Homo sapiens: one gene and its partner. The protein of the gene in region 1 binds, or shares a complex with, the protein of each later gene. Links are inferred from orthologs where the notes say so. Each region holds a gene or a part of one and is shown in the gene's direction. Other genes may lie near its edges.

Region 1 (6,562 bases):
TATTTCCGGGACATCGGTACGATGGTGGGCTGGACTCAGGCTTCCACAGCGTTGATAGTGGCAGCAAGAGGTGGTCTGGAAATGAGGTAAGGGCGTCCTGTCCATGGGTGATTGAGGGTGTCAGCCCTGGGAGAGCACCTCTGAACTGGGGACCTCCAAATTGCAGGGTGCCAGGCAGAGGCTGGAGCTGTCCTCTTCCTTCCCTCTGCCCAGCATCCCAGGGAAGGGCTGGCTCAGCAGAGACCCTGAGCTTAGTCCCACACAGGACCCCCCAGGTCCTGAGCCCCCATGTACAGAGAGGCCATCTCCCATCTCTGCCTCTGCCTTTACAGTCAACAGATGAATTTTCAGAGCTGTCATTCCGGATCTCAGAGCTGGCCCGGGAGCCCCGGGGACCCAGAGAACGCAAGGAGGATGGCTCAGGTGAGTAGCAGGGCTGGCCGGGAGCTGGGCTGGACCAGGGCCTGGGTCCCCGCTCACTTGCTGACATGCTGGCCTCCCCAGCGGACGGAGACCCTGTGCAGATTGACTTCATCGACAGCCATGTCCCCGGGGAGGATGAAGAGCGAGGCACTGTGGAGGTGAGAGCCCAGCTATGCCTCTCCCAAGGGAGGGGAGCTGGAGGAGGGGACAGGGCAGGCGTGGGCACAGGCCTGCCCTCAGCTGCTCTGCTGTTCTCTCCTTAGGAGCAGCGACCACCCGAATTAAGCCCTGGGGCAGGGGACAGGGAGAGGGCACCAAGCAGCAGGTACCCCAAGCCCCCAAACTGACGCCACTGCCCGATCCTCCCACCCCCCAACCGCCTCCTTCCCTGACCCCGGGGTCTGCCCCTCTTGCCCTGTCTTGGTCCCTCAGGCGGGAGGAGCCGGCAGGGGAGGAGCGGCGGCGCCCGGACACCTTGCAGCTGTGGCAGGAGCGGGAACGGCGGCAGCAGCAGCAGAGCGGGGCGTGGGGGGCCCCGAGGAAGGATAGGTGGGACCCAGGGCCGCCCGGGGCTGTTGCTGGACACTGAGCCCTGGAAATGGGGCCACCGAGCCCCGCTGAGCCGTTCTGCCTTGGGGCTAGCTGACCCCACCTCTCCTTGTTCCAGCCTCTTGAAGCCAGGGCTCAGGGCTGTTGTGGGAGGGGCCGCCGCCGTGTCCACTCAAGCCATGCACAAGTAGGTTTCCTGCCAGCATCCCCTCCCCACTCCTCTTCCTATGACCATCATCCCTCTAATTCCCTTCTGTCTCTCCTCAGCGGCTCGCCTAAGTCCAGTGCCTCCCAAGCAGGGGCTGCAGCGGGGCAGGGAGCCCCCGCCCCTGCCCCTGCCTCCCAAGAGCCCCTTCCCATAGCTGGACCAGGTGGGACAGGGATTTTGGGAGGAGGATGGGGCCTGTGTTGGTGAGGGCTGGTTGGGAGAGAGGGACACAGAGGGGATGCCTGTCTCACCTGCCCCTGTCGCTGTGTCCCTGGTTCCGGCCCCAGCGACAGCACCTGCTCCACGGCCACTTGGCTCCATTCAGAGACCAAACAGCTTCCTCTTCCGTTCCTCCTCTCAGAGTGGCTCAGGTGGGTGTCCTGCCCTCCCCAGTGCTGACCCAGTGCTTGCCAGCACCAACGGCTACATCACCCTTCTGCCCTGGGAGCCCTCTGGGTCTGTTGTACCTTTTGTACCTTTGCGTTGAAAATCCCACAAGCAAGCCGGGTGTGGTGGCTCACACCTGTAATCGCAGCACTTTAGGAGGCCCAGGTGGGAGGATCGCTTGAGCCCAGGAATTCAAGACCAGCCTGGGCAACATAGCGAGACCCCATCTCCATGAAATAAAAAAAAATCCCACAAGCAGAGAGGCAGGAGGTGTAGGTGCCAGGCCACTGGGACCCAGCTACAGAGTCAGTGGTGAGCAGTGGAGGCAGCCCCATGCCCCCCTTTTTCTCCTAGGCCCTTCCTCACCAGACTCTGTCCTGAGACCTCGGCGGTACCCCCAGGTTCCAGATGAGAAGGACTTAATGACTCAGCTGCGCCAGGTGAGCAGAGGCGGGAGCTGCGTGGGCAGGGGCCTGGGCCGGGCACCTCCTTGTGTTGCTGTCCTTGGGACCAGCCTCCCTCCACATCCTCTGTGCCCACTCTGGCACCTCCCCTGAGGACAGGAAGGGACAGGCACAAGTTCCCTGCTAGCCCTGAGCCCCCCACTCTCCCTGCCTCCCAGACGCCTCTCCTTCCCTGACCCCTGCTCTATGTGGTCTACACTGCCAGGTCCTTGAGTCCCGGCTGCAGCGGCCCCTGCCTGAGGACCTGGCCGAGGCTCTGGCCAGTGGGGTCATCCTGTGCCAGCTGGCCAACCAGCTACGGCCGCGCTCCGTGCCCTTCATCCATGTGCCCTCCCCTGCTGTGGTCAGTTGGGGCTGGGGAAGAGGTGGGGGATGGGCCGGGGCGCCTGTGGCCTCTCCCTTACCACATTTTCTTCTTTCACCCACCCCAGCCAAAACTCAGTGCCCTCAAGGCTCGGAAGAATGTGGAGAGTTTTCTAGAAGCCTGTCGAAAAATGGGGGTGCCTGAGGTATGGGGGCTGCTTTCTAAAGAGTGGTGGCATGCCGGACTCAGCCGAGCATGTGGCATGGATGGTGGGCTTCCATTTGCAGCGGATGTCTGCTCTCAGATGAAGGCACAGGCTGCCCCTGCCCTGCCCAGCATGCCCCCTGCCCTGCATGCCCCCTGCCCTGCATGTCACCTGTCCTACACATCCCCTGCCCTGCAGGCCCCATCTTGTCCTGCATGTCACCTGTCCTGCACATGCCCTGCCCTGCACTCCTCCTGCACTGCACTCCCCCTGCCCAGCACGTCAGCATGTGGGCGTGGTTCTGGCCCCAGCACGTGAGGGCAGGGGTGGGAGGGACTGTCCTGCTGCTGCTGCTGACGTCTGTCCCTTGTCCTTGTCCACCTGCTCTCCTCTCCCCCAGGCTGACCTGTGCTCGCCCTCGGATCTCCTCCAGGGCACTGCCCGGGGGCTGCGGACCGCGCTGGAGGCCGTGAAGCGGGTGGGGGGCAAGGCCCTACCGCCCCTCTGGCCCCCCTCTGGTCTGGGCGGCTTCGTCGTCTTCTACGTGGTCCTCATGCTGCTGCTCTATGTCACCTACACTCGGCTCCTGGGTTCCTAGGCCCCAAAATCGGCCCTCCCTCACCCCTTTCCCTTCCTCTCTATTTATAAGGTCCCTGCTCCACCCGACCCCACCTGCGGTGCCTTCAGCCCCAACCAAAGACACTAGTGCACCCCCTTCACAGACACTGACCTCAGAGGCCCCACTCTGGTGCCCCCAGACCCTGGGCCCCCAGCCTCTGGCCTCCCTCCAGTAGCCCCACGAGTCCCCACCTCTCAGTGCTGACGGTGCCTTCATGTCCCCGCCGGCCCTGCCCCTGCCCTCTGTACCCCGTGAGGGGTGGCAGGAGCTGGAGTCTCCCCCTTCCTCCTGTGCCCTCCCCTTCCCCCCCCAACAGCTGCTATGGGGGGGCTAAATTATCTCTATTTTGTAGAGAGGATCTATATTTGTAGGGGTTCGGGGCCCAGGCCGGGTCCCTATCTCTGTGTATAAACTGTACAGACCGTGGCCGCCCTGCCTGTGTGTGTGTGTGTGCGCGCGCGCGCGCGTCTGCTCCGCGTGTTGGTGGCTGTGGCCATGGCTCTGTGCCCACCAGCATCTCCCTCCTGAGATGCCGGCCTCTCATGCTCCCGGAGCGTCCGCCAACCCCCCGTGTCACCTCCCTTCTGTTATCGCTGACAGCTTTCTTGCGTCTCATTTGTCGCCGAGCCCCGAGCGCACGGTGATGCTCGGGTCTGCCCCCGACCCCCTGCCACAGGCCGGAAGCCGCAGGGGGCACCGTGGGGAAGCTAACCCGGCCCCTTCCCCCAGGAGTCACTGTGCCAGCCCCACCACATCCTGGAAGAGGAGGGGGCCCCGGGAAGGGGCCTCCCCTACATCGCTGCTGTCGTCCACGCCCTGCTGGACCGGCCTTAGGGGTGAAGGTGGGGGCACAGGGCCCACCCCGCCCGGGACCCCGGGAGCAGAAGACGCGCCTGGGCTCCGCGCTCTCAGAGAAGCACGTGGTGAGGGTGGCCTGGGCCTGGGCACCCTTGGCCTGCCGGCCTGGCTGCCTCTGGGGTCGAGGGTCTGGGTGGAAGGACCGCGGGTGTCGCAGGTGTCGTGTCAGCCGCAATAAACAGAAGCCAGAAGCCCTCTGGGTGGCCCTCAGGTGTAACTGTGTCTGAGAGCACGTGCGTCGCGGGGTTGTTGGGGGGGCCTCTGTTTCCGGAATTCACCGCCCAGTCGCCAGGGGGCGCCCGCGGGAGCCCGGCGGGGGCACGCGCCACGTGGCCGGGAGACGCACAGGGCGCCAGCGTCGCCGCGAGGCCTCTGGGGTGGGTTCGCCAGGAGGGCACGTTCGCGCCGCGCCGCGGAGGGAGGCTGAGAGGGCCGGGCCGGGCGGCGGGGACACGGCGGTACCGTCCTGCGCTCGGGAACGCGGAATGTTGCCCTGGTCGCCGCCGCGGTGGGGCGCGGGCCCGGAGGAGGCGCCCGAGGGACCAGGCCTTCCGGCGGGCAAGGACCAGGGCGAGCCCTGGAGCGCCGGAGCGGACGCCCCCAGGGAGCTGGGGACACCCCCATGGGACAGGTGAGGGGCTCGGACGGAGCCGTGGGGGGACAGCGACTGGGGGCCTCCATGCCTTCACCACGCGCTCTACGGAGGCTTCTCCATTGTCCCTGCTGGAGATTGGGTCCCTCGGTCTCCCTTGCACCAGGCACCCTTGGGCTCCAGGGGAGGGTGCGTGGGGGCGGTGTGGCTGCAGCCTCAGTCCCTGCCCCTCCAGCCCACAGCCCCCATCCCGTAGCCCTTCCTGGATCTGGAGAGAGCAGCTGCTGCTGCCCCACCACCTGCCAGGCCCGGCCACTGAGCAGCCCCCCGGAGCCCCAGGTAGGACAGGCCCTGCTGCCTCTACTACCCCTAAGAGCCTCTCACTGACTGTGAGCCTGTTATAATCCCCAAGCGTCCCCCCAGATCCCCGTTCCCCCCAGGTGGCCTGGGAGGTGGCCCCCTCGAGGATGACTCCACTAGCGCCCTGGGACCCCAAGTATGAAGCCAAAGCAGGACCTCGGCCGGTGTGGGTGAGTTGGGGGCAAACCTGTGGGACTGGCTGGGGTGCTCAGGGAGCTGTGCGGTGGCCTGAGGCTCCAGTGCTCTGTCCTCCTCACCCTAGGGGGCCAACTGTAGCTCAGGAGCCTCGTTCTCAGGCCGGACGCTGTGTCACCCCTCATTCTGGCCGCTGTATGAAGCAGCCTCGGGCAGGGGTCTCAGGCCCGTGGCCCCTGCCACAGGGCACTGGAATGGACAGCAGGCGCCCCCAGATGCAGGTACCTCCCTTGGTCCCCCGGGGGCGCAAGGCTGCCCCAACTCCTCTGGGAACCAGTGCCCAGGGGTGGGAGCCCGCAGCCCGCCACCCTAGTGGTGTTTCCTCCTAGGGTTCCCGGTGGTGTGCTGTGAAGATGTCTTCCTCTCGGACCCTCTGCTGCCCCGGGGGCAGCGTGTTCCCCTGTACCTGTCCAAGGCCCCCCAGCAGGTGAGAGCTCTTTCCCCTCCCTGTCCTTACCCCAGCCTCCAGGCTTGCCTGGCAGGAAACACATTCCATTCTCTCTCCTCAGATGATGGGCTCCCTGAAACTGCTGCCGCCGCCCCCCATCATGTCTGCCAGGGTGCTCCCCCGCCCATCACCCTCCCGGGGCCCCTCCACTGCCTGGCTCAGCGGGCCGGAGCTGATCGCTCTCACTGGCCTGCTGCAGATGAGCCAGGGGGAGCCTAGGCCCAGCTCCTCCGCGGTTGGCCCCCCAGACCATACCTCTGACCCACCCAGCCCCTGTGGTAGCCCCAGCAGTTCTCAGGGTGCTGACCTCTCTCTCCCACAGACCCCAGACACCCATTGTCCATAGCCTTCTCAGGGCAGAGTGGGCTGGTTGTGTTGACAATAAAACAGTGTTGGTTTGCAAAACAGGCTCCGTGTGGCTGGGAGCAGAGTAAGTCATAGAGGCAGGAATGGGGTCTCTTTCTGTCTCACTGCAGATCACCCCCTGCTGTGTTAGGCGGAGGGCGAGGGTATCCATGACCTAAGGCATTTCTGGGCTGACTGGGCAGAGCCCCTTTAATGAGTGGGTGGGTGGTCTGCATGGCAGTGCAGGGCTGAATGTATAGGAAGCAGGCGGGGGAGTAAGTAGGGGCACCTCACTTTTAGGGGACACTAGCCCCACACCTCTTGTGCTGGGGCTCCAGGAGTTCAGTTCTGGGCTGGGTGGGGTAGTTGTCTGGCTCAGAGGAGACACAAAGAATGCACTGCAGGTGTGTGGGGGAGGGTGCCGGTCCATGTAAATGTCACCACTGGCAGAAAGGTGGCCCTGCCGCAGCCTACCTGAGACTCTAGAGATTCTTGCACGAACTCTGTAGAGAAACAGGATCAGGGTTTCAGCTGAGAAAGCCCAGAAGTGTGTAGTCTCGGTGGTTTGGGCGGGGATAGGTTCTAGAATTTTCTCCCATAAAATA
Region 2 (7,269 bases), on another chromosome or scaffold:
GACATGTTGTCGCTGTAGACATCTCACAGAATACTTTTGTGTCTCTGTCCCATCAGAGGCAAGAGCAGGCTACGGAGGAGAATGCTGGTGTACCTGTTGGCCCACACCTCTCACTTGCGTATGAAGACAAACAAATACTGGAAGATGCTGCTGCTCTGATTATCCACCATGTGAAGAGGCAGACAGGCATTCAGAAGGAGGACAAATATAAGATAAAACAAATCATGCATCATTTTATTCCAGATTTGCTCTTTGCCCAAAGAGGTGATCTCTCAGATGTGGAGGAAGAGGAAGAAGAAGAGATGGATGTAGATGAAGCCACAGGGGCAGTTAAGAAGCACAATGGTGTTGGGGGCAGTCCCCCTAAGTCCAAGTTACTGTTTAGTAACACAGCAGCTCAAAAATTAAGAGGAATGGATGAAGTATACAACCTCTTCTATGTCAACAACAACTGGTATATTTTTATGCGACTGCACCAGATTCTCTGCCTGAGGCTGCTACGGATTTGTTCCCAAGCCGAACGGCAAATTGAAGAAGAAAACCGAGAGAGAGAATGGGAACGGGAAGTGCTGGGCATAAAGCGAGACAAGAGTGACAGCCCTGCCATTCAGCTACGTCTCAAAGAACCTAGTGAGTGCCGAGACCTCTGATTTACAGAGGATGTGTGAGGTTGAGGACCTTAGAGCCACCTAGACTTGGGACTGCTTCTTTTATTAATAGAGCACAGGCATTAGAGTCTGTGTAGTTAAACTCTCTGAACCTGTTTATCTGAAAAATGGAGGCTCTAGTTGCTTGTGGTGTTGCTTTGTGCAAAGTATCCTATGCAGGGCTTAGATCATGGACACTTGGTCAGTGGTTGGTACTGTGGACGCACCTGGGAAGGGGGTATCACAGTTAATTTCTCAAATGGCAGATTTCTGGGTTACTGCCATCTGTTTCAAAGTACAGATAGAGACTAAACTGTCACAGCCAATTTCAATCCATGACAGAACATAAATTCCTAGTGCTTAAAACAGAATTTTCTCATATTTTTGAGCAGGACTTCTGTTTAACCAGTGGGGTTTATGGCTCATTCTTAATATGTAGAAATAGTTTATGGAAAGGAGACTGGAACTCAAAAGGTGATATGAGACATGGAGAACAGGCAGGACAGGGATAAAGATGTAGAACTCAGGAAAAGGAAAGTAAGTGAGGGTTCAGGACGCTGTCATGTGCTTTATGTAATTTTGTGCTGCCTGCTTCCAGTTCACGTCATAAATTAGGTACTTGAGCTGTGAGCCAAAAGCTTTTTCATGAAGCATTTCTTCTGGGCTCTTAAGGAAATAGCCAACCTGAGGAGTGTATCTTCTTCTTCTTTTTTTTTTTTTTTATGTGTTGCTGATGTAGGAAGCCCAGATATGGCCCTAGCTTTCTATCTGTTGAGGAGCTAATGACACTGAAAAATAATTCTGAAAGCTTTTATCTAGACTAGTCCTAGCTCGAAAGAGATAAATTTTAGATCTCATTGTGGTGATTCCATCTACTTGGGTAGAAATTAGAAATTAAATGGCCTATTCCTGGCTTGGCCACTGACTTAACCTGGTTTGAGGCTTACATAATGTTGTCTTGTCTGATAATGCCAACCCTCACACTTACCACAGCTTGTTTGGACAAATCTGTGGTTTGGACTCAAAACTTTATTCTGGCATAAAAGCAGTTTTCATAGCAGTGGTATATTTTGGAGTCTATAGCCTATACCTATTCTATGGAGCTAAAGAATGTGATAGTCTGTGATGAAACTCAAGCCAGTTGCCTCTTTTAAACAGTATTTGTCCTGTTTTGCCTGTTTTTTAATGAATTCGTCAGACTTCAGATAAATGGAGACAACTTGGTTTTGCTCCTAGCCTTTTTTCTCCAGCACAAACACAACTAGCAAGTAACCAATTAGTCAGTGACAAATAGTTCGTTTTGTAACTTTTTTCATTTTAGTCAACTTTTTGTTGAAGTGCAATGTATAGGCCGGGTGCAGTGGCTTACACCTGTAATCCCAGCACTTTGGGAGGCCGATGTGGGAGGATCACTTGAGGCCAGGAGTTTGAGACCAGCCTGGTTAATAAGTGAGACCCCATCTCTACAAAAAAATACATATAAGGTACGGCATGTATATATAGAAAAGTATACAAATCAGAATTGTGCAGCTCAGTGAATTTTTACAGACTAGACGTACCTATGTTCAAGAAACGAAACATAACCAGTACTCTGATAACCAGTCCTTTTTCCACTTTGTTGATTTCTAACACTAGAGATTAGATTTGTCTATTTTTGAACTTTATATAAATGGGTCTTTAGTAAGCTAAAGGCAGCACTCTTTAATACTCCTTGTGCCCTCTGCTAGTTGCCAAATGTCTTTAACAACTGATGAGATTTATTCTAGCTAGTGATTGAAATGATTCATGTGCAGCAACTACAGATGATTTAATGCAATTTGTGAAATACAACGTAGCGAATCCATTTTTAAACAAAAGGACTTTGACAAATGCAGATTACTTCATTATTCATAAAGGATTTAATTTGCACTCCTATTTTTGTGTTCCCAAGAGGTTTCCCAGTGCTGGAGTATGGCTGTGTCTGCCTTTCCTCATCTGTACTTTATGCTTCATTGAAATAGCTTTATGAGCAAGTGACCCATGTGAGGAATGCTCTTGTGCAGGCTGGGAGAGTAGGTTCCTCTCTCAGCAGGGGAGCCAACAGCTCTTTGAAGGACTGGCTTCCCTAGGATATTTTCCTCTCTGAAAGTGGCCCAGCAGTACCATAAAGAAGTATCTTTCTAGCATGGTAGTCAGAATATTAGAAGCCACTGTTAAAGTTGCAGAGTCACTCTGATAGTGCTGGTGATTGTAGTCACCTGTCGGAATTCATCTCTGTTTACATTGGAATGAGTGAGTATATTTTGAATACCTAGTGTTCATACTTTCAAATGCCATTTAGGCCAGCTGTGGGATTTGCCCTGTACTCTATCCCTAGTCTTTTCTTAGCAAGGTAAGGCCTCACCAATCCCATCTCTCCCACAGTGGATGTTGATGTAGAAGATTATTACCCAGCTTTCCTGGACATGGTGCGGAGCCTGCTGGATGGCAACATAGACTCATCACAGTATGAAGATTCACTGAGAGAGATGTTCACCATTCATGCCTACATTGCCTTTACCATGGACAAACTGATCCAGAGCATTGTCAGACAGGTGAGGGCATGGAGGAGGCTAGGGTGAGTAAGGGAAGAAATCCTTACCTAGAGATGGGCCACGCAAGGAAAAGGAAAGGCAACTTTTTCATATAACAGTGTTTATGAACGTAGGGTTCTGAAGAGAGGAGGGGAGGTTAATGTGATGCCTGATTTCTCATGTTAACAAAGTTGCAGTGTATGAGCCTGCCTACCCCATATCCTTTCTTGCTGGCCACCTGTAGAGTGCAGTGGTCCTGACCCCAGCTTCCTGCACAACTTGTCTATCTCTTACCTTGTCTGCCATGGGTAAGCACACAGTGTGGAACATTGCGTCTTCCATAGGTGTTGGTAAGTTTTTTTTTTTTTTCCTTAAATAGAGACAGGGTGTCACTGTTTTGCCCAGGCTGGTCTTGAACTTCTGGTCTCAAGTGATCCTCCTGTCTTGGCCTCTTAAAGCGCTGGGATTATAGACACGAGCCACTGCGCCTGGTCAAGGTGTTGGTAACTCTTATGTACTTGCATTGTTTAATATTTGAAATTCTTTTTATAAGAAAGGGTTCACATAACATCTTTTATAATACTCTGCCCACCTCACTCATCTGCGGTTCCCTCTAAGTTAGGTTTCTGGTTGGTTTTGTGTGTTCTTCCTGTGGCACCCTGGGAACTTGTAAACATGTTGTTCTTTACAACAATGATATAAAAAATAGCTTGTAACAGATAGTCACATTTCTACTTCTTGGACTTGAGTTCTGAACTCCCAGAGAGATTGTTGGTTAACTGCTTTTTTCTTTTTCTGGAGACCCAGCTCTACTGCTGATTGACTGCAAGTCCCCAGCAGGGCTTCATTTTTCCTTTTCAGCATCCTGTTCTGTGGCTCCCTTGGCCCTTTTTGCCCATATGCCAAAGAGCTGAAAATTGATGTGGGCTGTGTGAAGACTGGCAAATACCTTAAAGTTCTTAGTGATGATTCCAGCTTTCTCCTTCTTATAGACGTACTATATGGGCATTATTGGTCCTGTCAGCTGGGTGGCTGATTTGAGTTTTTCAGAACTGTCTCCCTTCTTGGGGGCTAAGAGCTTCCTGGAGAAGAGGTTGAGCTTGGAGTCTTAACTCCTTCAGGTGCTGAACATTGGCCCACAGGGACATGGTGTACTAATGCCACCCTCTTGTGGATGCTGGTCACCCTTAACTCTTCTAAGCTGAAGCCCCTGCCAGCTTGTACTTTGGTGTGGTACCTCACTGTGGGGCAGCTTACCATGGGTCAGATGGGTCCAGATGCAGGGTGCAGGTCAATGTGGTATACTTTTGCTTGCATCTGCAGATCTTCTGGGCTGGCTGGTTGAACCACGTGGCCATGGGCCACTGCGATTCCTTGTGGAAGTAGGGCTTTAGGATCATGCTGTTCCACCTGGGTACCGTGGCTACCTACAGCCCTCTTCCATAGAATAGCTCAGCAGAAAGGCGGTGAAGTACTTAAGTGAAAACTTGTAAAAAGCAATTTCTAATTCTAGAATCCACACTGCCACTGTAGAAGGAAAGAGCTTGTTGCTTAATGTTCTCTTGGGCTAAAATATTGAATTCTTTGCAAAGTACCCATGCTTTTGCCTTGGTTTTGGAAGGGTGCATGCCTCTGTACTCCTCCCACAGTATCTACACAGGATTGAGGAAGAGCCCTTCATATAAATGAACCTTAACATCTGGGGGAAAGTTGTCAGATAGTTGTTTCCAATAAGTTGAAGAAGTTGTTAGGCCTTCCCATAAGAGGTCTGGATGGTAACTGGCAGAAATCATTAGATGGATACATAGTCACCCATAGTCATACTTTTTCAGACTAATCTTCCTTAACTTCCCTGAAATTTATATAAAATACAGACTCCAGTTACCCTGTGCTTATGTTGCTGATTACAGGCTTGCTGCTGCTTCAGCTAGGAACGAAGTCTTTCATACCACCAGCACAGCTTAAAAAAAAAATCCAATAAAACTAACTTTTAATAATTCTGAGGTTGGTTTTCGAAACAATAGTTACAATTATTTACTGTATCTGGTTATGATTTTGAATCAGTAATAAATACTATCTCCACCCACCCCCCGCTTTTTTTTTTTTTTTTTAATGGAAACAGGTTTCATCCAGAAAACCCCAAAACAGTGACTTTTTTTTTTTTTTTTTTTCCAACCCAGGGTCTCACTCTATTGCCCAGGCTGGAGTGCAGTGGTGTGATCAGCTCACTGTAGCCTTGACCTCCTACCTCAGCCTCCCAAGTAGCTGGGACCAAAGGGGCCACCACACCGGCTAATTTATTGTATTTTTTGTAGAGATGGAGTTTTGCCATGTTGTCCAGGCTGGCCTCAAACTTATGGGCTCAAGCAATTCACCTACTTCAGCCTCCCAAAGCGCTGCGATTACGGGCATGAGCCACTGTGCCCAGCCTACAGTGACTTTTTAAAACATTTTCAAGCTTCTCAACTCCTTTAACTGGAGGTATCTCTTCTCTCATTCTCCTCATATTTGGTGTTCCCTCAGATTCCACTGCTGACTGAATGTACAACATATATTTCAAAGTCAAGGCTGGTCATGGTGGCTCATGCCTCTAATACCAGCACTTTGGGAGTCCAAGGCGGGCAGATATATTGAGTCCAGGAGTTGGAGACCAGCCTGGGCAACATGGGGAAACACTATTTGTATTAAAAATACAAAAAATTAGCTGGGCATGGTGGCACATGCCTGTAGTCCCAGCTACTCAGGAGGCTAAGGTGGGAGGATCATCTGAACCCAGGAAGTTGAGGCTGCAGTGAGCCGTGATTGCACCACTGCATTCCAGCCAAGTGAAGCCATTACATTTATCTTACCTATTGTAGGCTGGCTTAAGAGGGATTTGTATTAAGAATACAATAGGCAACCTCACAGACATCCAAGTACAGAACTCAAAATAGGACCACACCATGGAAGGATTGGGCTGGGAGGTGATTTTTCTCTCCTGCATGCCTTCACTCTGGACTTCTGCTCCATGCTTGTGCTTTGCTCTGCAGATGAACATACGGCATGTGCTCCAGGCTCCTCCAGCCTCTGAGGCTTTGGCTTGCCCTCCCAGTACCCCTGGTCCCAGTGTTACTAGACCTTTCCATACAGATGCTCCTCCTCAAAAAATCTATTGAACACCCTCTCTGTCATCTCCAATTAGCAAGATAGAGAATCTGATCTGCTTAGCAGTGGGGGTGGGAGTTCCGTAGCTGTCTCTGGATTTGTAGTGCTGTCTTTTCTGAAGACTCGAGGAGGGGCCAGATATCCAAAAAGAGAGTATGGGTGGGGAATCAGTAATACAGTCTACTTCAACAAGAAAGTATAAAGTAGAGGCGGTGGCTCACGCCTGTAATCCCAGCAGTTTGGGAGGCCAAGGCGGGTGGATCACTTGAGCTCAGAAGTTTGAGATCAGACTGGGCAACATGGCAAAACCCCGTCTCTTCTGAAAATACAAAAAAGTTAGCTGGGCGTGGTGGCACATGCCTGTAGACCCAGCTACTTAAGAGGCTGAGGTATGGGAGGGTTGCTTGAGCCCAGGAAGTTGAGGCTGCACTGAGCCAAGATCACGATGCCACTGCACTCCAGCCTGGGCGACAGAGCGAGACTCTGTCTCAAAAAGAAAGTAGAAAGTGGAAGCATCTGTATGTATGATTGAAGTCATGCTTTCCATCTGTTTTTTTCCACCTTTTCTTTTTTCTCCTAAAACACTGTATCTTAATCTTCCTCATGATATCAGGTACTCATAAGCATTATTTTAATGGTTGTATCAGAATCCTTTATCTGGACTCATTGTGATTTATTTATCCATCTGTAGTTGCTGGAGATACTGCCCTTTCTGCCACACTCAGTCACCGTTCTGACCTTTCACTGTGTCCAGTTATCTACTAATACACATACTGGTCATTTAGGACTTAAGAATAAATAGTTATCATGGTTCCTAACACTTAAAAAGAATGTGTCTTCCTAAAAATAGAATGGCTTGGTGGTTATGATCATCTTAAAGTTTTTTAAACAGACAAATCAATATTGAAATTAACGTTTTGCTTTCT

Evidence for each region.
Region 2: the proteins of SAP25 (region 1) and SIN3A are in contact, whole or in part, in an NMR structure (PDB 2RMS), measured with the Mus musculus proteins. The link is inferred for Homo sapiens from one-to-one orthologs. Residues at the interface, in NP_001075431.2 of Mus musculus: Ala208, Glu209, Ile211, Ala212, Leu213, Ala214, Gly215, Leu216, Leu217, Gln218, Met219, Ser220, Glu223; in NP_001103821.1 of Mus musculus: Leu121, Lys122, Val123, Ala126, Leu127, Leu130, Tyr144, Phe147, Leu148, Met151, Lys152, Phe154, Lys155, Thr161, Val164, Phe182, Phe185, Leu186, Pro187.

What each region holds. Positions count from the first base shown.
Region 1 is NC_000007.14:100,571,683-100,578,244, reverse strand, and holds SAP25 (histone deacetylase complex subunit SAP25), read left to right. Parts: upstream 1-4,344; 5' UTR 4,345-4,502; coding exon 4,503-4,648; exon of another isoform or gene 4,649-4,844; coding exon 4,845-4,948; intron 4,949-5,032; coding exon 5,033-5,139; intron 5,140-5,231; coding exon 5,232-5,385; intron 5,386-5,493; coding exon 5,494-5,591; intron 5,592-5,673; coding exon 5,674-5,958; 3' UTR 5,959-6,017; downstream 6,018-6,562. Other genes in the region: LRCH4 (leucine-rich repeat and calponin homology domain-containing protein 4), read left to right, coding at 1-86, 333-423, 505-581, 687-748, 856-972, 1,091-1,159, 1,240-1,343, 1,468-1,551 and 3 more. UniProt on the Homo sapiens protein: Involved in the transcriptional repression mediated by the mSIN3A but not the N-CoR corepressor complex.
Region 2 is NC_000015.10:75,385,603-75,392,871, reverse strand, and holds part of SIN3A (paired amphipathic helix protein Sin3a), read left to right. Parts: intron 1-56; coding exon 57-630; intron 631-3,050; coding exon 3,051-3,220; intron 3,221-7,269. UniProt on the Homo sapiens protein: Acts as a transcriptional repressor. Corepressor for REST. Interacts with MXI1 to repress MYC responsive genes and antagonize MYC oncogenic activities. Also interacts with MXD1-MAX heterodimers to repress transcription by tethering SIN3A to DNA.